3 separate regions of the Homo sapiens genome follow, and all the other regions are linked to region 2. The links come from fine-mapping of genetic effects on gene expression. A gene starts in region 2. Each other region holds a variant in brackets. All regions are shown on one strand. Distances are between the middles of the regions.

What was found. PIP is the estimated chance that this variant, and not a neighbour inherited with it, causes the effect. A credible set is the group of variants that fine-mapping cannot tell apart.
Region 1: its variant is the best candidate, but not a certain one, in a credible set for the expression of POU2F1 in whole blood (TOPMed, PIP 0.74).
Region 3: its variant is the best candidate, but not a certain one, in a credible set for the expression of POU2F1 in whole blood (INTERVAL, PIP 0.69).

Annotation. Positions count from the first base shown.
Region 1 is chr1:167,390,875-167,399,057 of GRCh38, forward strand. It overlaps POU2F1 (POU class 2 homeobox 1), which reads left to right. Exons shown (of 16, transcript NM_002697.4): 10 at 5,412-5,553; 11 at 7,120-7,259. Among named protein-coding and RNA genes, the nearest start is that of CD247, 120 kb to the right of the region's middle. The variant G/A (reference allele first, on the strand shown) is at 4,811.
Region 2 is chr1:167,216,285-167,224,467 of GRCh38, forward strand. POU2F1 (POU class 2 homeobox 1) reads left to right here and starts at 4,602. Exons shown (of 16, transcript NM_002697.4): 1 at 4,602-4,674. The coding sequence starts at 4,614. It overlaps POU2F1-DT (POU2F1 divergent transcript), which reads right to left and starts at 4,252. Exons shown (of 1, transcript NR_185889.1): 1 at 3,547-4,252. RefSeq lists enhancers at 4,185-4,294, 5,825-6,004 and silencers at 4,475-4,574, 4,925-5,074, 5,295-5,574, 5,585-5,764.
Region 3 is chr1:167,420,114-167,428,275 of GRCh38, forward strand. POU2F1 (POU class 2 homeobox 1) reads left to right here. Exons shown (of 16, transcript NM_002697.4): 16 at 1-7,227. Among named protein-coding and RNA genes, the nearest start is that of CD247, 94 kb to the right of the region's middle. RefSeq lists enhancers at 4,136-5,106, 5,107-6,077. The variant T/C (reference allele first, on the strand shown) is at 3,778.

The DNA of each region.
Region 1 (8,183 bases), 170 kb after region 2:
CACGCATACTCTCTAAGCCTATGCTAAAACCAGTTAATCGAGCAAGAATCTATAGAAGATGAAAACCCCAAATTAACCAAAATCCAAATTAATTTCCTGGAATTTGTCAGCTAACCGAGGACTTTTAAAGAAGGGTGAATATATTTAATGGTTTAAACAGTTGTCTGGATATGTAGCATTTTTGTTTGTTTTAAGCACTACCACTGACTTACTCTTTGATTAACCTGTCATAAATAATATATTTTTTTAGAGACAGGGTCTCGCTATGTTGGCCAGGTTGGTCTTGAACTCTTGGCCTCAATCAACCCTCCCGCCTTGGCCTCCCAAAGTGCTAGGATTACAGGTGTGAGCCACTGCGCCCAGCCTGCAAATAATACTTTTAAAGCAGGCAAGGAATTAAACTGAATGAAATTTATGTAAAATGGTATAAGATCATTAGGTAAAAAAAAACTGAAGTATGGATTAGACTGGGTGCCTTTATGGAATCAGGAGAAATCTGTTATTTTCTTTCCAGGGAATATAATTTAAAGTTTTTAAGCCACTAGTTAAATATTACTCAAATTATTTTGTGTTGAAAGTACGGTAATGCTCCACCTGGCCTGGTAGGTCAAAATCCAAGGGTAGCATCCCCAAATGTACTATGGGTGTTTTTAAGAACACATTTATATATATCTTTATATATATCTTTTTTTTTTTTTTTTTTTTTTTTTTTTGAGACAGGGCCTTGGTCTGTCACCCAGGCTGGAGTACAGTGGCATGATCACGGCTCACTGCAGCCTTGACCTCCAGGGGTCAAGGGATTCTCCCACTTCTGTCTCCTGAGTAGCTGGGACTCAGGCACACCACCACACCCGGCTAATTTTTGTAGAGACAAGGTCTTGTCATGTTGCCCAAGCTGGTCTCGAACTCCTGGGCTCAACCAAATCCACCCACGTCAGCTTCCCAAAGTGCTAAGATTACAGGTGTGAGCCACCAGGCCCAGCCCAGGCTTATATTTCTTTGGGAATTCATTTTTGCTCAAAGAAATCAATTGTGTTGGGGAATATGTAATGATTTTTTAAATAGGCATGATTTTAGAGGAAATACAGTTACATTTGTGAGGAGTTTGACTTGTGAAGAAGCAAATTATCCAGAAACATTTTAATACTTTCAAAGCATCTTAAATGATCTGACCTGTTTTAAAAAGAAAGCTAGGCCGGGCACAGTGGCTCACACCTGTAATCCCAGCACTTTGGGAGGCCGAGGCAGGTGGATCACCTGAGGTCAGGAGTTCAAGACCAGCCTGGCCAACATGGCGAAACCCCGTCTCTACTAAAAAATACAAAAATTAGCCGGGCGTGCTGGCGGGCGCCTGTAATCCCAGCTAATCAGGAGGCTGAGGCAGGGACAGTGGCTTCAACCTGGGAGGTGGAGGTTGCAGTGAGCCAAGATCACGCCACTGCACACCAGCTTTGGGGGTGACAGAGCCAGACTCTGTCTCAAAAAAAAAAAAAAAGAAAGAAAGAAAGCTAAACATAGAACTAGATTGATATGAGTAAGTTACAAAGCTGAAATAAGTATAAGGTTAGCATATTTAGCAGTGCCTCAAGTTTTAAACTATTAGCACAGCATACTCTGGGGTTCCCTGAGAGATTGTTGCGTAAGTGATATGCCAAAGATGTTAAGGCTTTTAAAAATCCTTATCTTTTACTCAAATAGTGGTTTGCCTTTCTGCATTTGACCCAACATATTGCCAGTGTTATGTTTTTCTCTCCCTCCGCACATCTCTCCAGGTAAAGGAGCTTCCCTATGGTCTGGTGTTTTGTTTTGTGGTTTTATCCTATTTTTTGGCATGACCATTCCTTATTTTTCGAAATGACTTTGAGACAGCAGTGGCAATGGTTCACAAACTTGGACTATGTGGGTTAAAGTACATACTACTGCTGCAGAATGGAAAATCAGTCTATCAACCTCTGTTTTTAAGTCAGATACTTCAATTTTAGTTATTCAAAGGTTGCTCTGTGTCCAATTTATTTATATACACACACAAAGTTTTAGCCATTAAAGTTATTTGCTGAAACAAAAAAAGCTCTATTCTCTGTGTAAATATACACATTATTAGATGTTTTAAAGTTATTTTCTAATTTCATAATTGCTTATTAAAGGATTACCATGGCTGTCTTTGCATAATTAGAAAACATGTCATAGCATAATACATTTATCACATGTGGTACATTCATTATTTCCCAGTCTCAGTTTTTGTTCCTTTTTTGTTATGTTCTTTTTAAAAATATCAAAGGGATATAATATAGTTAAGATTATATATGAATCGACTACTTAAAACATTTACTTTTGTGAGTGATAACCCAAGATGGTTGTGAGTTGGATTATCACGAAAGAGCATTAAACCAAGCCTGTACCGAATTAATGAAAATTAGTATGTTAACTGAGGAGTCTGTTGCTTTTTATTCAATTAAGCAATTTAAATGTGAAATAAAACATATTAATAAATGATAAAGTGAGTTTATTATTTATTATCATGGTTCTAGTTAGTGAATGGCATAGCTTTATTTCCAGCCACCACCTTAAAGTATCATTTCTTATAATTACTGTCATGATTTTTTAATATATATTTTATTTACTTATTTATTTATTTTTTTTAGAGAGAGGGTCTCACTCTCTTGGCTCTGGCTGGAGTGCAGTGGCACAATTATAGCTCACTGCAGCCTCAAACTTCTGGGGTCAAGTGATCCTCCCACCTCAGCCTTCCAAGTATCTGGGACTACAGGCACATGCACCACACACAGCTAATTTTTTTGTGTTTGGTAGAGATGGGGCCTTCTGTTTCCAAGGCTGTTGACTTATTTTTTGCTTGTTAAATTGTTACTTTTATAATAAGACAGAAGTTTGTGAAAATTTGTAGCTTATTGTGCAGTTACTATGCCAGAAAACACTTATTGCCATCTAACTGCTACATAAGTTTATATACTCAAAGAATTGCAAGGTTTAGTTGGCACCAGCTGTAATCTAAACAAGCTGACCATGACATGAATATATGTGATACACAATGCATAAGTTCAATGCTTGACATATAGTAGGCACTTAGTGAATATTTGATTGAATGAAGTAACATTTTATTTTATTTTATTTTATTTTATTTTATTTTATTTTATTTATTTTTTTGAGACAGAGTCTCACTTTGTCACCCAGGCTGGAGTGCAGTGGCATGATCTCGGCTCACTGCAACCTCTGCCTCCCAGGTTTCAAGCAGTTCTCGTGCCTCAGCCTTCTGAGTAGCTGGGATTACAGGGGTGTGCCACCACACCCAACTAATTTTTGTATTTTTAACAGAGACGGGGGTTTTGCCATGTTGGCCAGGCTGGTCTCGAACTCCTGACCTCAAATAATCCACCCGCCTGGGCCTCTTAAAGTGCTGGGATTACAGTTGTGAGCCACCGTGCCCTGCCTGAATGAAGTAACATTTTAATAAATATATAGAGATACAGGTATAGATAAACATAATCATCTGTGTCTTTAGACATATTTGTATACAGTATAATGGATAGCATTTATGCCCTGCTCACCACTGATTCTGATTCTTGCAGTTTTATGGTAATTGGAATGAAATCAATAAACAGTCTACTTCAGTATATTCAGAACTGTCATTAAAACTTTCTGTGATGATGGGGTGTTCTGTACATTGGACATGGGATGTCCAATACAATAGCCACTGTCTACTTATGGCTATTGAGCACTTGGAAGGGCTAGTGATGCTGAAGAACTGAATTTTTAATTTATTGGGTTTTAATTAATTTAAATAGCCACTTGTGGCTGGTGGCTATATGGGAAGGCAGAGGATATCAATCACTTGAAGTTCAGGTATTCTGGGTGCCTCATTTTGTCTTACATTTCAATATTTCTCATCTGTTAAACTTTTTATCAGAAGTTGCTCACCAAAAAGAAAATGGGGTTTTAAAAATATGTTACTTTTTTAACCCAACTACCACCTAATAAAAAATGTAGTATTCAATGTGCTAATAAAAAATGTAGTGTTCAAAAGATGGATTTAGGGGTAGGGGGGAATCAAAAGACTGGGATAATCCCAGTTCAAACAAGTGTTGCCAGGATAGTTGAGAGTTGGCTGTCTCATAGTAGGATTAGTTGTATAGTACTTTGGACCAGAAATGATGTTGCCTTTCTGCCCTGTCACTAAACTAATTGAAATGAATGGGTGAATCATTTAAACTCCGTGAGCCTCTGTTTCCTGTATATAAAGCAACTATCTTACGCTTTTTTCCCAGTTTGATCAAGAGAGATTCAGCAAGAAGAAAAGCTCTGTATACATTTCAAAGGTTATAGGCTTATAGAGAAAGACATCTTTTGTAATATATTCAGGGCATCATTGTTCTATTGCTATAAGGTTACTAAGTTTCCATTGCCCATGAAGGTTTGACTAAATGGGTCAAACCTCTCTACTGTGAATTTCTATTTCTATGATGGTTACAAAAGTAGTCTTTTAGAATACCTGTTTTTTGTAACTAACTTTGAAATCCAAACTAGGAGTGAAAATAGATTTTTTTTTCACTGCGTCCAGAAATACTTGATAGGGAAAAGAAGAAAAGAGATGATTTCTAATTTTTAAAGTGATTTTTGGGAAGTTTGATTAGTTCGTAAATATCTTGGGTTATCTAGAGAGTTATACATAATATCTGTAGGTGATACAGATAAATTTATTTTTATTTTTCTTTTTTAAATTTTTTTCTTTTTTTGAGACAGGATCTCGCTCTGTCACCCAGACTGGAGTGCGGTGCCATGATCACGGCTTGCTACC[G/A]CCTTGACCTCCTGGGCTCAAGCGATCCTTCCACCTCAGCCTCCCAAATGGCTAGGACTACAGGCACACGCCACCATACCTGCCTAATATTTGTATTTTTTGTAGATGTTTTGCCATGTTCTCCAGGCTGGTCTGGAAATCCTGGGCTCAAGCATTCCACCCATGTAGGCCTAGGCTTCCCAAAATGCTGGGATTAAAGGTGTGAGCCACTGTGCCCAGACCAGATAAATACATTTTTAAAAATTACTTAAATCACTTTGGTTGTATCAATTAAGGGGCTTGTTAGAATATTAGCACTATTTTTGATACCTAGTTGAAATTTTGGTATCTCCATGATTACATAAGGTGGCAAGAAGAGATTCAAAATGGGAAAGTATGTGGGACAGTATTGAACATTGTAACGATCAGGCCTAAAAGAGTCCTCACAGTAACACTGTGACTGGCTTAGGGATGGAGTTTATGTGGGACCCCGTAAGTGGAATAATTACTGACTCCTTGTCTAAAGCAGTTATTGGAGCAACACCCCAGAGTGAAGGCTTTAAGCACTGGTGAGATAACTCTGTCTTTCCTCTCCTCTTCTCCTGCTCTGTATTGTGTGTAGGGTGATGTTGGGCTCGCTATGGGGAAACTATATGGAAATGACTTCAGCCAAACTACCATCTCTCGATTTGAAGCCTTGAACCTCAGCTTTAAGAACATGTGCAAGTTGAAGCCACTTTTAGAGAAGTGGCTAAATGATGCAGGTAAGTGACTGTATAAGACATTTCTTTGTCATTCATTGGAATTTTACATGGGGATTGTTATATAAATTGGGGTTTATATTTCTTACTCTATTTTTGTTGTTACAGAACCTTGAAGCTTACTAATCCTGGGAGGATCATTATAAATTATGGTGATATAAATCAGAAAGCTGATTCATTTAAATATTCTAGTAATTACAGTATAAATAATTAGCCGTAATTTTTAGCCTGAAATACTCTTGTATTTGAGCCAGGATTAGGAACACACACACACACACACACACAGTTGAAGGAATAGGATAAGTAAGGCTTTTGTATTTAGATAAGCTTGAAGTAGAAGCTTATTGTTTCTTCCTTGATGAATTATCATAGAACTTGTTCTTGCAATAGTTCTGCTTTTGTTATTTCAAATGACCACACATTTCATTCAGAAAAGTTGGACTACTAGCTTTGTCTTACGTTTTTTTGTGCTGAGAGTTCCTTTTGGAAGATTGGAATTTTGAGTCACAGGATCATAGACTATGAAAGCTGTAGGAGTCATGTAGATCCCTTAAACTATGGTTCTTATTGTAGATATGAACAAAAATTAGGCCTTTGGAAAAGACAAACCTGAAACACGCATCCTTGGACAGTTTTATTCAGTAGCTATGGGTGAGGCCTAGGCATCTGTTTCCCAAGTCCACAGATAAGAACCACTGGTTTACTGTTTCCATCTTATTTTACGTGTAGCAGAAACAAACTCAGATGTGTATGACATGCCCAAGGTTATTAAACTGTGAAATTATAGAACCCTGTGATTTAACTTCAGAGAATTTATAAATATTTCATTTGTTTCTTTTCTTTTTACCCTAGATTATACCAATAAAATGAGAGGCCATTTACAAGATAAATATTAAACGTTCAGTAATTTCTAAGAAACTTTCTTCCTTTTATCCCCAGAACTTATAAACAAACAGAACTGGAGACATAGAGCTGAGTTTAAGGATAGGAATAGTAAACCTCTTCTGTCTCAGAAACAGAAATCCAAACATAGTGGTAATATTGTCAACCATCCTAGCAGAAAGAATGCCAATAAGGGCAGCAGAAATATCCATGGTAGTAAATATATATATATTGGGGGGATGGGTGGTGGGTAGGGGGAGACATGGTCTCACTCTGTTGTCCAGGCTGGAGTGCAGTGGCACCATCTCAGGTCACTGCAGCCTCCACCTCCCAGGTTCAAGTGATTCTCCTGCCTCAGCCTCCCAAGTAACTGGGACCACAGGCGCACGCCACTGTGCCCAGCTAATTTTTGTATTTTTGGTAGAGATGGGGTTTCACCATTTAGCCAGGCTGGTCTTGAACTCCTGACCTCAAGTGATCCTCCCGCCTCAGCCTCCCAAAGTGCTGGGATTACAGGTGTGAACCACCATGCCCGGCCAATAAGCAATATTGTAATGTAGGTTATGTGAAAACCTTTTCATACTTGGATGTAGCTTATTTTGTCAGTTTTGTTGTTAATATGCATATTATGCACATGAATCACTGTGCTCAGCTAATTTTATTTCTGTATTTTCTTCATTCTTACAGAGAACCTCTCATCTGATTCGTCCCTCTCCAGCCCAAGTGCCCTGAATTCTCCAGGAATTGAGGGCTTGAGCCGTAGGAGGAAGAAACGCACCAGCATAGAGACCAACATCCGTGTGGCCTTAGAGAAGAGTTTCTTGGAGGTCAGTGAGGATTTTACTTTTCTGTACATGGGATTGTCTGTGTAGTACTTAACATTAGTACTTAGTAGAAACTGTAGGTGGTAAAAGATGACATGTCAGCCTCTGCTCTTATGGATGATTATAAATAGGTGAAGTAAGTAAGTTACTAACATAGGAGACAGAACCAGAGTTCTGCAGGGTTCAGGAGAGACTAGAATCACATCCATGCAAGCACTCAGTATGAGAGAGGTGGCAGCTTACCATAGGATACATAGGAATTAATTCCACAGACTAGAAAAGGTGGGGGGAAAGTACTTTAAGCAGAGGAAATGCATGAGCGTTTCCCCCTCAGAGTGGGGGAGAAACACTGGAGTGAGGGAAACCATAGGGTGTATGAGGAGACACTCTAGTAGATTGGTTGGTTAAATTGTAGTGTCTGTATGCCTGGAATAGTAGTTTGGGACTGGAACACTAGAGACCTTGAGTGTTAGGCTATGGAGCTTAAGTTAATGCAAGAGATATTTGGCAATTATTTTTTTGTACCAGGTAATATCATAACAAAGCTTTTAAGAAAATTTTGACTTCTCTAATTCAGAAAAGACTTGAGCACATTGGGAGGACTCTGAATTAGGAGTTTTTGTCAGCTCTGCCACTTAAACTGTGTGATTGGGCAAATCATGTGATTTCTTTAAGCTAAAGGTCCTTCATTGTGAAATACCTGCCTTTCTTACTGTGAGATCCAAATTAGATAGCATGAAGCATGGAGAAAGGTTAAATTCCTACTAATACATGTGGTTGTACTGGTATTTTGTTAATTTCATTCACAATTAATAGATCTTAAAAATGAAAAACTATAGATATTTAAGGATAACTTATCCTAAGTTAATATGAATAAGTTTAATAGGTGTATGTTCATTAGAACTTCTATCTACACAATCTCTTTGT
Region 2 (8,183 bases):
AAGGTCTGATCTGCTAATTGCTCCTAACAGGGTGTGGTCTTTTGAGAAAAATGGCACTTCAAGGCCCAAGAACACTGCAGGTATTTCAGTCTTCACATCTGCATTCTGGGCAGCAGGAAGACAAAAAAAGGAGGAAGAATAAACTTGCTTGTTTTATTTTTTTGAGACAGAGTCTTGCTCTGTCGCCCAGGTTGGACTGCAGTGGTGAGATTAAGGCTCACTGCAGTCTTAACCTTCCAGGCTCAAGTGATCCTCCCACCTAAGCCTCTCAAGTAGCTGGGACTACAGGCATGTGCCACCACATCCAGCTAATTTTTATATTTTCTGTAGAGTCACAGTCTCATATGTTGTCAGGGCTGGCCCTGAACTCCTGGCCTCAAGCAATCCTCCCGCCTCGGCCTCCCAAAACTTGCTTCTTGAAAAAGCATTCCCAGAAATCCCACCAAATTAACTCTTTATAATTCAATAGTCAAAATTTTGTCACACATGGCCACACCTAGCTGCAAGGGAGCCTGTGTGTTGCACTTTAGCAAGACAGATGGAACACATTCCTGTTGACACTTTAGGGCTGTTACTAAGGAACATTCATCCAGTAATGGTAACAGCTAGGCAGAAGTAACCACCACTCCCCTGCACTACTGTGCCATGTGTGTATTTTACTATATGTACAGATTTGTGTTACCACTACCATACTCAGGATACAGAACAACTCCATTAACCACCCCCCTCCTCCAAACTTCCCTTGTGCCTATCCCTTATAATCACATCTTCCCCTGTAACTATCTCCTGGCAAACACTGATCTGTTTTCCATCACTATAGTTTTGTTATCTCATTAATGTCATACAGATGGAACCATATAGTACATGGTATATAACCTTTTGAGACTGGCCTCTTTCAGTCAGCATAATGCCTTTGAGATTCATTGAAGTTGTTGTATATGATAGTAGTTCATTCTTTTCAATTGCTGAGTAGTATTCCATGGTATGAATGTTTTATTCATTCATATGAAAAACATTTGAATTGTTTCTACTTTTTGGCAATTATAATAGTTGCTATTTGTTTCTAAGTGAAGTTAAGTTCTCATCCACATATACCTTTTTATTTGTATTTATTTATTAAAATCATTTTTTTGAGACAGAGTCTCACTCTGTCACCCAGGTAGGAGTGCAGTGGCACCATCATAGCTCACTGCAGCCTCGAACTCCTGCCCTCAAGCAGTCCTCATCCCTCACCTCAGCCTCCCAAGGAGCTAAGGAGCTGGGACCATAGGTGTGTGCCACCACACCCACCTTAACTTTTGGCTTTTTGTAGAGACAGGGACTGTGTTGCCCAGGTTGGTCTTGAACTCCTGGTGTCAAGCAATCCTCCTGCCTCAGTCTTCCAAAGTGGTAGGATTTTAGGTGCAACTACTGCACCTGGCCTACATTTTTATTATGACATTATATACAAGGACATTGTTTGTTAATGTGTTGTTCCCTTCCTATACTGAACTATATGTACCCATATGGTTTAATCTGTGACCCCACCAAATCTCATGTCAAATTATAATCCCCAATTTTGGTTGTGGGGCCTGGAGGGAGGTGATTGGATCATGGGGGTGGATTTCCCCCTTGCTGTTCTGGTGACAGTGAGTTCTCATGAGATCTGGTTAAGTGTGTATCTCACAGCTTGTGGAACTGTGAGCTAATTACACCTCTTTGTAAATTACCCCATCTCAGGTATTTCTTTATAGCAGTGGAAGAACAGACTAATACAGAGGTGTCTGGATCATTGGGGTAGATTTCTCATGAATGGTTTAGCACCATCGCCTTGGTGCTGTCCTCATGACAGTGAGTTCTTGTAAAAGTGTGTGGCACCTGCCCCCCTACCCTTTCTCTTGCTCCTGTTCTCCTGTGTGATGTACAAGCTCCTGCTTGGCCTTCACCACGACTGTAAGCTTCCAGAGTCTTCCCCAGAAACATAGTCCTTCCCAGTGCTATGCTTCCTGTATAGCCTACAGACCCATGAGTCAATTAAACCTCTTTTCTTGTAAGTTACCAAGTGTCAGGTATTTCTTTATAGCAATGCACGAACAGTCTAATACATGTACCTCCAAGATTTTGCCTGACCCAAAGCAAATAACTTAGTGTAGTGGTTAAGAGTACGGTCCCTTGCCTGTGTTTGAATTTTAGCTCTAACACTTAATAGTGGTGTGACACTGGGCAAGTTACTTGACATCTCTATGCCTCAATCTTCCCATCCTAGATAACTGGGATAAAGAGTTTCTACCTCCCAGGGTATTGTAAGGGTTTTTTTTTTTCTTTTTTAAAGTGATATATGTGAGTTTGCTGAGGTTAAAGTAGTGTCTTACACATTTTCCTATCTTTAGCACCTAGTAAGTTCATGAGAATGCAGATGTTTACAATTTTTTATTGAATAAATGACATTAATTTTACAAATAATCCTAACATACATAACTGTATATTCACTATTTTTCTTCAACAAATATGAACACCTACTATGCCCAGGCATTGTGCTAGGCACTGGGGACAGCTGGAAACATAAATAACTCATTAGGAGGAAAATGAAACTTTGATACAGTCTATTTTAAGCTATTTTTGTTCTCACAGAACTATCCTTCCTTAAATAAAAATCCTTTCCATGAAAATTTCCTTTTATAGAAGTGAAACAGTAAAGAATGCATAACACATACACTAGCTTCAATGACTTTCCGAAGGTCATATTAATATACTTTTTGAACCAAAGAGCAAAACTAGGATTAAATAGAAGACAGGAAATTAAATGAGGGTATTTGAGCTCTTTTTCTTAATGGAGATGATTTCAAATTTGTGGTCCCCAGAGCAGGGGCATGTACTTAACTATTTCCAATAAGGTTGTCAATTCTGAGACTTCCCTTACAGTAATGCTGGTGAAAATAACTTAGGCCATATTTCCAGATTAACTAGTTAAATATTTCATTTCCTTAAGTGTGCTGGTTGGCGTGGCTCTAAATAATTAGATTACAGGGCGGTCTAATTATTTGGTTCAAACAGTCATGCACACACCCTAAGGCTTAATTACCACGAACAAATCAATCCCACCCCCAAATCGTTGCCTGTCACTGACAATAGCTTTAACTGTACTTGCACAGTTAAAGGAGTCCAACGAGCATTCTAGGACTGATGATTAAAACTTTACCCATTAAAATAATTGCACTCACTTGGAAATCAGTTTTGTTTTTAATTGTAGAACCAGCAGTTCTACCCAATTTAAACTTCAGTCATATCTCTCAAGACAGATTAACTAGAGCTGATTTTTTTTAAACTTTGCTTACCATGAAATACACCTTTCTATTCTTAAAAAACAAACAAACAAACAAAAATAGGGCTTTAAAAATTCGTAAAATAATTAGACCTGGGACTTTGTCCAGGGAATTTCGCCATTTAAGATAAAGAAAACTCAGCAACATTATGTCTAGTTACCAAGAAAGATATGTGCAACGCGAAACCTTTCCCCAATACCATATTTACTCTGAGAAACACAGCAAAATAAAATTCACGATGAAGTTACGATTTCGACATTTTTATTAGTCATCAGCTTACTGCTAGGTTTTAAAAGGTGTTCCAAGGCGGGAAGAAGGCGCGGGGGGAAGCCTCAGAATATGGGGTCTGTTTCGATTGGGGGGAGCGGCGTTAGAGGGGCGTGAAGGCAGAAAGGAAGGGTAGGGCGGAAATTAGCGACTTAATAAGACGCCTAGCTCCCGAGGAAGCCAGCCTGGCGTTAGAAGCAAGTAGAGCAGAAGAGATTTAGGGCTAATTAAAACAATCACACGACACTCCCCCTCGCGTTTGCCGGGGCCGGGTCTCCTGCACTAGCAGAGCCGGGGGCGGGGATTAGCTCGGATTCAAATTTAAAGCGGGAGGCCCGCGTGTGGCTCAGCAGGTGCCTCATGCCCGGCTCCCGTGGCGGTCGTTTCCGCCCCTACCTGCCCAGAGGGCCGGAAATTACCTAGCGAGGAGCGGCTTATCCATTGTTGCCAATGTTTCAACTGCGCGGAAACCCTGAAGAAAGTGCGGAGCACAGGGCACGCGGGCCGCTCACTGCCCTTCCACGCGCCCCCACGTTTCTGGCCGCTGCGCTCCTTGCCGTGCTTTTACAATGCCACAGGCCACTGGGGGAGACCGGAGCGAAGCCAGGAGGGAAGCAAGGCGGGAGGAAAAGGGAGAAGTGTAAGAAGACACAGGCGCCCGGGATACTATATAATCTGGTTCTGAGCTAGAGGGAGCGCATGCGCCGGCGACACTTCTGGCGGCAGGAGAAAGGCGCGCATGCGCAGAGCCGAGACGAAAAATGAAGCCACAGGGTGCCTGGCTGATTGAGGGCGCTGCTTTAGCTACCGAAGGGCCACAGCGCCCCGAAGGCGCGTGCGCAGAGCGCGGGAAGGGGGTGGAGCTCTTCTGAGGGGGCCGGGGCGAACAGAGCCGGCCTCGCGCGCCCCCTGGCGCGCGCCCGGGGAGAGGAAGGAGCGGGAGGGGGCGGAGAGGAGGGAGGAGGCAAGCAGGGCGGGAGGGGGGAGGGGAGCCAGAGCGAGGGAGGGTTTATCGACCGGGCGATTTTGGTTAAAATATTCAAAATGGCGGACGGAGGAGCAGCGAGTCAAGATGAGAGTTCAGCCGCGGCGGCAGCAGCAGCAGGTAATCATTACAGCATTTTACATATTCATATTCATACTCAACCCCGGCTCCCGCTGCCCCCCCCCGCGACTTAGCATAATTTATTAGTACTCAGGATTATTATAATTAACGGCGGGGAGATGGGGGGCCGGGGAGCATTGAGCCCCCGCCGGGCGCTGAGCGGAGGGGGAAAGAGGCTCGGAGCGGCCAGGCGGAGGGGGAAGACAAGGGGCAAAGGGGGCTGCGATCCACTGCCCTCCTCCTGCACCCGGCCCACCCCGCCGCCGCTCGCCGTCTGCCCGTCGGCACCGGCCCTCCTCCTCTGCCGGCCGCCGCTGCCGCCTCCTCGCCGCCGTGCCCGAACCCGAGCGGGTCCGCGGCGGGGCGGCGGGGCCGGGGCAGAGGGAGAGGACAATAAAGACATTTTACATATTCATAGCTGCTGGGCCGGCGGGGCGCAGTAGGGCGCGGGCGGGCGGCCGGGGCCGGGCGGGCGCGGGGTGGGGGGCGTGAAGGGGGATGGAGGCGGCGGCGAGCACAATGCCGGGGAGGCGGCGGGGCCGGAGCGGACCCCGGCGGCCGGACACCCGCACGCGTCTTCCCCCGGGAGCGGGCCCGGGCGGGGGGGCGCTGCCCGCCTTGGGGGGCGGCCCTCAGGGCAACCGGGGGTGCGCGCGGGGAGAGCTCCCTGCCCGCGCCCCGCGCGGGGCTGAGCCCGGGGGTCACGGCCCCAGGCACTTCGGCCTCGCCCCACTGGTCCCCAATGTGGTGGCCTGACCCAAGCCAGGCCTGCTCTCTAGGTGGGTAGGGGTGAGCGGTCGTGGGCGCTGCGAGGTGGCCTGGGGCGGCGGGGGTGGGGAACCCGCGCAGGGGTCTGCGTGCCCCCCCTGGGGGGTGGACTGGATTGGAAGGAGTCCTTGGGGCAAGTTCCTTCCGAGGGGATGTCCTCTGGGGCGGCCCGCGCGCCCCCGGCCGGCGGTCGGCAGCCCCTTTGCGTTGTCGGCCGGGGCTTCGCGGGCGAGTTGGGCTGGAGGTGCCTGGCGTGGTCTGACCTCCGTCTCCCTTTGCCCCTCCCCGCTGCCCCCCCTCCGTTCCCCCCACCCCCTGCGCCTGACCGGGACGCACGGGGCGGGTGGCCCTCCGGGGCCTCTCGCTCCGAGGCCCCAGAAGCGCCCAGAGGCCTCCCGAGAACTTGGATGTAAAGGGCTGCCCTCCTGCCCCAGAATGGGCTGGCCTGACAAGTTGATCGTATTCTCGATTTCCTCTCTCCTGTTGGGAGTCGGTGGGGAGGGACGGGGATCCCCCTCCCTTCTTCTGTGGCGGTGTTTTCTCGCTGTGTGCTGGGTCGTCTTTACTCTCTGCTTAGCTGAACCTCTTCTCATTTGAATAATGTCTAATTCGGGGAGGTTTATATTATTGAAATGGCCGCCTGGCTTTCCCCGCCTCTCATGTTTAGTAATTCAGACCTTTAATAACAGCCACTCACAGCCCAACGCCGTGTTTATATTTTACATTCGCCCCATGTGCTTTTGTGGTTCGATATGATTTTTTTTTTCCTTGGCAATCCGCAGGGCTCTGAGATCAAACCCAGGCCGTGCTGGGAAGAGAGGGGGGAAGCTGGGCCTTGGCTTCTCTAGCAGTTGCCTAGGCCTCATGTTCTCTGCTGCTTGATTTATTTACTAATAACCAAAATGACTACCTCCACCAACTTCCACACACTTTCCCCTCCTCTGCGGGCAAAACAAACTCTCTTGGGGCTTTACTAGCATTAAAACAGGTCCTAGCTAAGTATCAACTCTGTGATGGTTTGTTTTCTCTTAAAAAGACTTTCTTATACTTTGCAGTAGTATTGGGCCTAGGGGGAAAAATCTGTCCTGTATTTTATTTTCAGAGCCTATGAAATCTATTTTGGTTTAATCCAAATCACTTTGTTTTGGGGATGGGTACCCCGGTTGCTCCCCACCCCCATGTTAAATACTTTAAGGCTTTGTAAAGGTCTGTAGTATTTGTAAAACTGACACTTTTTTTTTCCTCTAGGAGTTGTGGAGTAGCTAAATATTAGAAATTCCAATTAACAACAGTTTCATAATTTCTTGGTGTGGTGCTACCTTTCTGACATCTTCATTCTAATTTAAAATGGAGCTGACGTTAATTTTGTGCTATCATTGTCATAGACTTGCTTATTTTAATTGTAGCACTACTGAAAACAAAAAAATGGGGTTATGTTTTCTTTGAGTATTTGTGTCATGATTAAATGAGTGAAAAGAGAAGAATAAACATAGGCATTGCGTTTACCCTGATCTTGGAACTTATTCTCCTCCCAGCACACCCGCCCCTCCTCTTTAAGTTGTCAGAATTGATGTTATGTTTTATCTAGACTTAGGACAGTTGGCTTGTGAGAGGCAGATTAACTTTTACTGTTTAGAGGAAACAGTAATTTTGATTTTTGGTCTTTCCTGTGGTAAAATTTTCTTTTAACATTTTTATTTTGTGTAGGGGTGTGTGTGAGTGTGAGTGTGACTAGTGTTGCCTGTCACTGGTGGATGTTTACCGCTGCGTAGTCGAGGGAAGTATTAGAGGAGTGGGGTTTAACACTAATGTGTTAAACCTTTGAAATTATGTTAAGACATTTTGGTGAGTGGCTAGCTATGTATTTTGTGGGACTTTGGTCTTCAGTTTAATTTGTAACAAAATTCTAGGTTTGATGGATTAAACGCAAGCTAATTTCAGATAACCAGTTCTCACCATTTTTCTTCTTTCACTCACAGTAGGCAGGCCCTGAATGCAGCAGGAAAAAAAAAAATCTGTAGCTTTTAAGAGAACCTTCAGGTGAATGACTGCTTCAGAGACCTGAAGTATGAGGTCAGATGGACAAAAAGCAGCAATATAATTTCATGCCTTAAATAGCATATGTTTTTGCACCCGATTCCCAAGATGTGGTCAAACTGATGATGTCATTGGACAGAGGACAAGGTGCAGTTAATTTGATTTATTGTCCTGAGGTGAAGTGTAGCAGTGAAGCCTTCTCATAGGGAAACCATTTATTTCGGGTCAATTTCCTTTATAGCTGCAATTTAATCACTACTGAGGCCGTAGATATTTTATACAAAATGATAAAATGTACATTGGATTTTACAAGCAAAATTTCGCTGTTACAGTTTTTGTAATACAGAAAAGGATGGATGTTGTTAACTGGCCTTATATTTTGGTTCACTTTTAATGCTATTGTAAAAATTCATTTCCTCAAAATTCTCAAATGGAGTATTTGGGTTTTAGATAGATAGTCATAGAAGTGACCCATATAAATGTTTGTTGTGATCCCCCAGACTTTTATAAGAAACTGTGTTTCTTAATCAGAGCATGGCTTAGGCTAATGGAGAGACCATTTGCCTTAGAATCCATTTCAGTGAATAAAGCAGAGTTGAGAATGAGGGCTGTGTATTCTTTAAGGTGGAAATGATAATGTTGAAAATAAGGTAGAATACTCACAGGAAAGCATGTGCTTTTAAAACAGATTTTTTAAAAAAAAT
Region 3 (8,162 bases), 200 kb after region 2:
CTTTTTAACTTGCTGGAAAAGTTGGATACATTGGCAAATATAGGGAATTCATGTCTTTTTTTTTTTTTTTTTTCTGGTCTTGCTCTGTTGCCTAGGCTAGAGTGCAACGGCATGATCTCGGCTCACTGCAACCTCTGCCTCCCGGGTTCAAGCAATTCTCCTGCTTCAGCCTCCCAAGTAGCTGGGATTACAGGCGCCCACCACCGCACCCGGCTAATTTTTGTATTTTTAGTAGGGACGGGATTTCTCCGTGTTGGCCAGGCTTTTTGAACTCCTGACCTTAGGTGATCTGCCTGCCTTGGCCTCCCAAAGTGCTGGGATTACAGGTATGAGCCACTGTGCCCATCCTCATGTCAATTTTTAAAGTGATAAATCCTGATATTATACATTGCAATTAGTGTAGAATAAACGCTTGGCTTATAGAACTCTCTGTTCTTAGTCTAAAGCTGTTCCCAAACCAGGTCATCCTCACGAAACATTCTTGACCAAGAAAAAAGATAAGGTCATTGAGATAGGAAGACAGAGGAAAAGCCTCTTGCTGTTGTTTCTTCCCAAGAAAGGAGAAGCCCTGCCAGGGAGAAGTCAGTAGTATTGCTGACTCACTGTATCACTGAGTGTAGGGTGTGGTAGCAAGGAGGAGGCAGGGGATTCACGCTGACAGGTGGCTCTGGCCTGGCTCTTGGGGGGCCTTCTGAAGACCAGTCTGCAGTTTGAGGAAGGGCCCCAACAATTCATTTGGAGAGCTTGGCCAAATACTTTCTCATTAAATCAGCACCTAAACTTGATGAACTTAAAGTTTGTTTATTAGAGTTGAAAACATTAAAAGATGACTGATACTAATGGGAGAAAAATACTAAAGACCCAAAATTTAAAATTTTCCAAAATGGACAAGAATTGATGGGTTAATTTGCTCATAACTGATATGAGTTTGCTTTTATGTGTGTGTGGAAAGCATTTAATGTGTGATGCTGTTCATAGTCCTGGCTATTTGATGTCATTTTCAGTTTTACAACATTTTGAGGATGACACTTTATAAAATGGTAAATCTTTCTCAGCGTTTACAAACTTGGCTTTTGAGAAGGGAAAAATCCTCTTTGCTATTTCTGTAAGAAGAATAACTGAGATCAGCTATTATATAGGTTTGCATGGATGGTGTCCACAATACAAATGTAAACTTGGACAGGAATAGGATAAATAAATTGCTTTCATCATAAAGGCCAATCATCCATTTCTTAGTCCAAGGAGATTAAATATAAATAGGACACCCCTGAGATTTCCAGTAAGGTATTTGAAAGGATTCCACTGGGAGGGCAGGGAATATATTTTTTCTCAGAGCATCCAGTTTGTACCCAGTTTTCTATATGGTTTGTGAACTGTAGCTTTTAAAAAAAAATTTTGTAGTTTTCTTCTAACCTTATTCATTAAGTAGTTCCTTGTTTTGGCCCTTCTACTCTTGGCCTTAGCTAAAAGCAGTAAATGTGAGTGAATTTTATGTTGATTATGTCACCTGGATCTCCTTTCCTTCCCTTCTTTTTCTCATTGAATGGTGGTACCTTAATTTGGGTAACAGCTAGCTTCTGGCACCTTCATAAAATACCTCAGAATAGCTTAGCATTGTTGCAAAACTGGTTTTAAACTAAAAACCAAATAAATAAGTGAAAAAATTTTATAAATAGTGGAAATAATTCTAGCTGTAGCATTTAGTTGAACTAATGTTTATTATGATCGATAAACAAGATTGATGCTGTATGTATTTGGGATCCTGTTTATAGGTTACAATTTATAGGGTTAGGGAGGGTTGGGTGGGGGAAGAGGAGATGTTGATTATGTTAGAAGGAAAACATTGCTCGTGTGTGTGTTTGTTTTTTCTTATATCTGTCTTGCCAAAGGAAACTTGATTTTCCCTGTGATTGGCTTTGGCCTCTGTGGTCTGGTCTGCAGCAGTGTGTGGTGGCATGCAGGTAACATATGGGGTGTCCAGTAGGTTCAGGGACCCTGAGGGTGCATTTACATCCCTTCCTATGGTTGCCCATGCCCCCCAGACCCTGCCAACCTCTCCTAATGATTCATTACCTCTGTACATAGCAAAAGCATAGGCAAAGGATGAATGCGTGAATGCCTGGATGTGCAGTTGAGAAACAGAGGCAGACATAGACATGCACCAATTAATTTGGAGCCAAGAGGTGAGTGATTGATGTATCTTAAATCTAGGAAAGTTAAAGTGAAACAGGTTCTTTGTGTTGCCCTCTGTCAAGTTACTGAATGTTGTGCTAATAACACAACACTTTAAAACCTTACTTACTTTTCTCATACCAAGGCTAGTTCTTTCTAGACCAAAAACACAAACAGGATAAAAAGCAAACCAAGAAGTTGAAAGCTAACCTGCCCACCTCACCCCTGTGATACAAAGTGTGAACCTTAAGGATTAGTTGGTGGGATTGAGGAGAGAATTATTCTTGGTGGGAACATGAATGAGAAATGATGCTGGCTTAGGAAAAATCACAAGCCCTTTCTGCCCATACTCTGGGACAAACTTTCTTGGCTCCCTGAGTTCGGATATAGACTGTATCTCTAGAAAGGCTATTTTTTTAAATAAATGATCCCACAGAACTTAAGTGGGATTTGGTTTAGATACCAAAGACACTGCTAATGTCATTGCTTATCCTTAAGTTTTCAAAACAGGCAGAGGGAATAGGAGCAAAAAGCCAAAATTTGGAAAAGCTTTACTTTATCTCTTTCCTTCCCTTTTCCCCTTTTCCCAGTCCCCTGCTTTTTGAAGGAAGTCTTCTTGGTTATCCTGGCTTTGGAAAAGAGATTTATTTTGTTTTGCTCTGCTGGCTCTTTAAAGATGGATAGTTGCTCAATCTAGCAGTGATGTTCTTGGAATTGCTGAGAAATTTGGGGAGGGCAAAAGATAGGGGTAGAATTTTTTCATTATTTCCCTTTATCTAATACTTTTAAATAGAACCAACACAGCCTATATGAGTTCAGACAATATTTAGATGTGGTATCTCCATCTGTCTCCTGTAAAAGATAAGAATTTTCAAGAACAGGATTACGTGGAAAACCAAAAGATCTTCCCTTACTCTCCTATAAATGTTTTGTTCCAAATGTTTTTATATATGGGCTCTAGGGAGTCAGGTAGTTCATTGTTTCGGTGTACTATTGATAGGACACAGAAAGGGAGAGAGGGTAAAGAAATGTATCACTCTCTGAATATTGCATCAAAAATGATTAGGTTGCAGAACTTCATGAAAGCTTTACTAATAATCTTATTGTTCTGACATTATGTAAAGGTGGTATTAATATTGTATGACTTGTCAAAGTGCTAGATAGGTTTATAAGTAGGTAATAGGGATGTTGAAGATTAGAGCACTTGAAACAGAAGTTCTGGGAAAACAAGGTGTGTGTAATGGAACACCACTTTGAGCACAGAAACAAAGGTCCCTTGGACCTGGTAGGGAAGATGTGATTTATGATTGTTTCTGTGTCCCTGTATCTGCCCACCCTGCACAGGGCTCCACCACCCAGGGCCACCTTCTGGTTTAAACCCAGGACACTGTCAAAAAGTTAAGACCCCAAAACTAATTTACTGTAAAAAACATTGAGGACTGCTGCAAAGTTTTCCCTTGTTTTCTTTGTGTACTTGTTCATCATTGTATAAGTTAGCCACAGCTTCACAAGAGCAGCTTAAGGCTTCTTTCATAAATTGGCAGTGGCATTGAGTTCTCAAACATTATATCCCAAAGTCTGCAGGCAGACAGCTGGATACAGCGC[T/C]GTGTATAAATGAGACGTCCAAACACTTGAGTTTCTTAAGATTGGGATCTCTTTCAAATGAAAAAGGACAGAGCCAAGTAGAGAAAAGACTTTGTGCTCCCACCCAGCCTTAATGAGTCTCATGGTCTAAAAGTATAGGAAGAAATGAAATGCACTTTCAGAAGCTAAAATGACAGTGTCTGCTACAAAAGGCTGTAGTTGTAGGCAGTCGGGGATGCCATGTCCTTGGTTCCATTCCTGCGTGAGTCTGCAGAAGGCACACACTTTGTAAGAGTAGAGTGGACTAGTGCCAGCCTGAATAGGTTTAAAACTGCAAACAGTTGGAGAACATGGAACAGGTTGGTGCAGGAAGCCTAAGATTTTGCAATCATATTATAACATTGGCTTTTGACAACATAAATGTTGTATCTTCCCTAAGGTCAGGTCGGGGAAAGAAAGACTTCCAGCTTCTTACCTCTGCGTGCATGGGCACGTGTGCATTGCTCAGTCCGCAGGAGGTCTCACTCCGCAGGAAACGCTCTCCTCCCGCATAAGTCTGTACTTCCATCCCCTCATCTGTGGTAGTAGTGAAGGCTAGGTGAGTAAGCGTGGGCTGTTCTACCCACCAGAAGTCCAGGAGCTGTTGTATACCTCATTTCTAACTCGTGACCGAGTGACTTGCTTTAACTTTCTCGAAATCCTACAGAGTTGCCAAGTCTGCCCTCCCTCCTCAGTCATGTTAAACTCTGGCCTATAGCATCATGGGACCTGTAGCCTAGGGTGGGACCCCCTAAAGCCTCTGAATGTCGCTGCTTAAAAGCTACTGCAAACTGAGGGCAAATTGCAATCTTCTATTCCTTTTTGTTGCAAGGGGTCTTCACAGGTCTCTTAACATCTGCTTTCCCTGCCACCCTGCCTTTAGGGGCTGGCCAGCTATCCACACCCCTAACCCACCCTGTGTTTCTGACAGCTGGCCACACGTCAACTTCTGTACTTGCCTTTTCCTTGGTGGGGTAGAGGCCAACCCCTTCTCCTCTGAGGCCTCAGGGTTCTGTTTCTTTTCAGGACTTTGGGTAGAAGGGAAGACACCAAAGGCTCCTTTAAGCTGACTGCTGCATACACATTTCACTTTTTTTCCTTTGACATGACCAAAAATATCCAAATATTTAAGTTTATTATTATTATTATTATTATTTGACAATCTTATATCCAATGGGCTCTCTAGAAGCTGCATCCCCAGCCCTTTCACCTTTTCTTTGAATGTAGTTCCCAACCTTCAATTCCCACCCCTAATGCTGACAAAAAGCTTAGCCAGGTCATGATACTGCTGCTATAAGCCAGGGGAGGGTGGTTTCTTTGTTTTGTTTTGTTTTGTTTTGTTTTTCAAATTTCCAGCCAAAACCAAAGATTTCTTAATGATTGTATAAACTCAAAACAAACAAAAGAACCAAAGAAAAGGGAAGTCTTCAGCATCAGTCCAGTCTGTGGTGTCCTGGCACTTAGAAGAGTGAGGCCAGGGAAGGTGGGGCGGGGGGACCCTCTGACTGGATCAGAAAGGGCAGGCAAGCTGCTTACCACCTTCCAGGGTCCAGCACAGGTGCATGCCCCTAGCTTTGGCCCTCACAAACTTGTGAGCATGCCCTGAAACAAATTGGCATTTCAGATTTTCCAAAACAAAAGTCAAAAAACCCCATCACCACCATCATCCACCCTACACCAACCAGGGTCACTATGGGGACTTAGCACAGGGCCTAGGGAGGGTGGGAGCTGCTGCTGGACTGGCCCGAGGACTCCACAGAGTGGGGGACGTTGAAGACACTGGCGCACGATTGGCTGCTCTGCTGGGTGCTTTAACCTCTGGGGCTGGGCGAATGCACGCCACGGTGCCCTTCTGAGCCTTTTTTTCTTTTCCTGTACTGGAACTGCTTGGAAGTGGCTGTCCTGTTTGTGAGAAAACATGCAGAAAGATTATCAAGCTTTTCATTTCTCTTTATTGTAGTTTTCTTTCCTTTTTGCAGCACCACTGTGCAACTATGCATTGTACTTCACAACCTTTTGTGCTAGGTAGATGCCTGTGACTTTTTAACTTGGGGGGTGGGGGGATTGCAAATGAAGGAACTTTTTACATGGATCTTTTTAATCTCAGTTGGTTGGGGGAGGGGGGTACTTGGTTCTTGGGTCACACAAGCTCTATCCCAAAGCAAAATCCAAATGTTAATAATATTAGCCTGATGCAGATACCAAAGATAATTTCTTTCCTGCAGAACCTTAGACTCGTGTATTAAGTACGATTACCCAGCACTTGCATTAGTCTAACCTCAGTAATTCCAAAGCTTAGATGTATATTTTGGTATATTTCTGGGATATTAAAAAAAAAATGTCGTTTAACTTCTTGTTTGTTTCAGTGTAATGCTCTTAAAGTCATAGCATGAAAATAATTGAACTGTCCTATTCTTAGTAGTTTGAAATAATAGTATTTTTGTATGTTTTGGGTGTGTCTATGTATGTATTAACATAACAGTTTTCACTGCCTAGGTGTTCATAATAAAAAAGAAAATGAAAAAAGTTCTGAGTGTACATAATATTCAATAATAATCTCCCACCAGGTGTCAATTTAGATTGCATATTCCTCATTACTGTTCCCAACTGGGATTTTGTTTTCTTTTAAAGAGACAGTGATCGTGTTTTTCTAAAGATGTTTTCTTTCTCTCTTTCAATATCTTAACTCACTTTTTTTTTCTTCCTTTTTTGTCTTAATTATTAATTCAGGGGTGTTTGTCCACTGTTGTCAAAGGAGGGGCACAAGGGGAATTGGCCCCCGGCCTCCTAGAACTTTTTGTTTTATGTACTTTAAAATGTGAGTTTGAGTTCTTCTTTGTGGAAACTTAAGATGTGGTGTAAATGATTCTTTCCAAAATTGTCCAGCAGCTTGAATGAGGCAGTGACAATTCTGAGGTGGTTTATTGGGAGTCCTTCTACATTTCTCTTAGATAACTCTGCACTCTGGGTGGCTATTGTGTAGCCTTACTGCCCCAGAGTGCCTGTTAGCCAAATATTTCCCCTCTGATAGGAATATTTTCTAAGAATCAGCTGATAACTTGCGTGCTGGACCTTGTTATCTGTGCCCCTGGGAGACACACGTTTTCTTGGTTTTGAAAACCTGAAACACAGGCAACTTTACATTTTGGGGAATTAGCTGATGCCTCCTGAAGCCTGAGGAGGTGGCGGGGAATATGAGCGGTGCTGTCTCTCTCAAAAGTGCCCTTTAGATGATTCCCCCTCCTAGGGCTGCCTGCAGGGGCTGTAGGCTTGGGAAAGATTGTGTAGGTGACAGTGAATCAGAATGAAGTGGTAGATTTTGTGTAGATGCATTTGTCTGCTGTAATTTTTTATATATATATTAAACTTACTGTAACTGTACAGTTCATTTCTGTTGTAAAACATCATTAAACCATCTTCCAAGTGTTTTCACATTGTTGGAGTTTCTTTGAAATTGCTGTGTTGGTATTCTGGATGCTTCACATACAGATTCTCAGACTTCGCATAATTCAGCTTCCAAATTGTTTTTTCCAAGTGCTCTCAGGAACCCCAGAATCACCATAAGCACCCTGGTTCCTGCCCCACTCCACCCTTCCTCCTGCACTCCAGGAGGAGCTATGGCCACTGCATTTCTCCCTCCCAGACCCTCAGTGTGGTTTCGTGGGACCCTGAGTAGCAGTAGTCTCCCTCAGGCCCAAGTACTTTGTGTGATCAAACACGCAGGCCCATGATTGATCCTGCAAGGGAGCTCTTCAAAGCTCCATCTCACTGTGTATTTGACTGCAGAACTGGGACCGAACTCAACTTTTTCCAAATGTATTGTTTAAACTGCACTGCCCCTCTAGCATTTCTTGCCAAGTCCTGAACATTCACTGGGTGGGGGCCGGGTGGGGGGTCCTCCGAAGGAAGGTAACCCTGAACTTGGCATCTGGTCCTCCTCCTGTTCGAGGCTGCACAACTTAGCTTCTTCAGACTTATAAATACCACTTAGCATTTAGTGTCTTACTACAATTCATTCATTTCATGAAAAGTAAAGTTTGAATTTTAAAATGAATTCCCCACAGAGAGAAGGCTTCAGCTTACTGAAGAACCTGGGGAAGTTGTCTATCACGTGCTGGCCATCTGGCAGGCATTCTTGAATTAGATGATGTGGAGAGCCGTTGTCGCAAGATGTGCTCGCTCTCCTGGAAAGGGACCAAAATGGGAAGGCAAATGGTGGGTCCCTTTCTCCCTGCTCCTTTATCATAGAATTTATATTTTTCCATTCCATTCCTTAGATATATGGCTTATGTCTCAGTTTGTAGTTATTTTCTTAAAATAATGTCAAGTTTTTAACAGAAATCCTGTTTTTGAGATAGTGTCGTGCT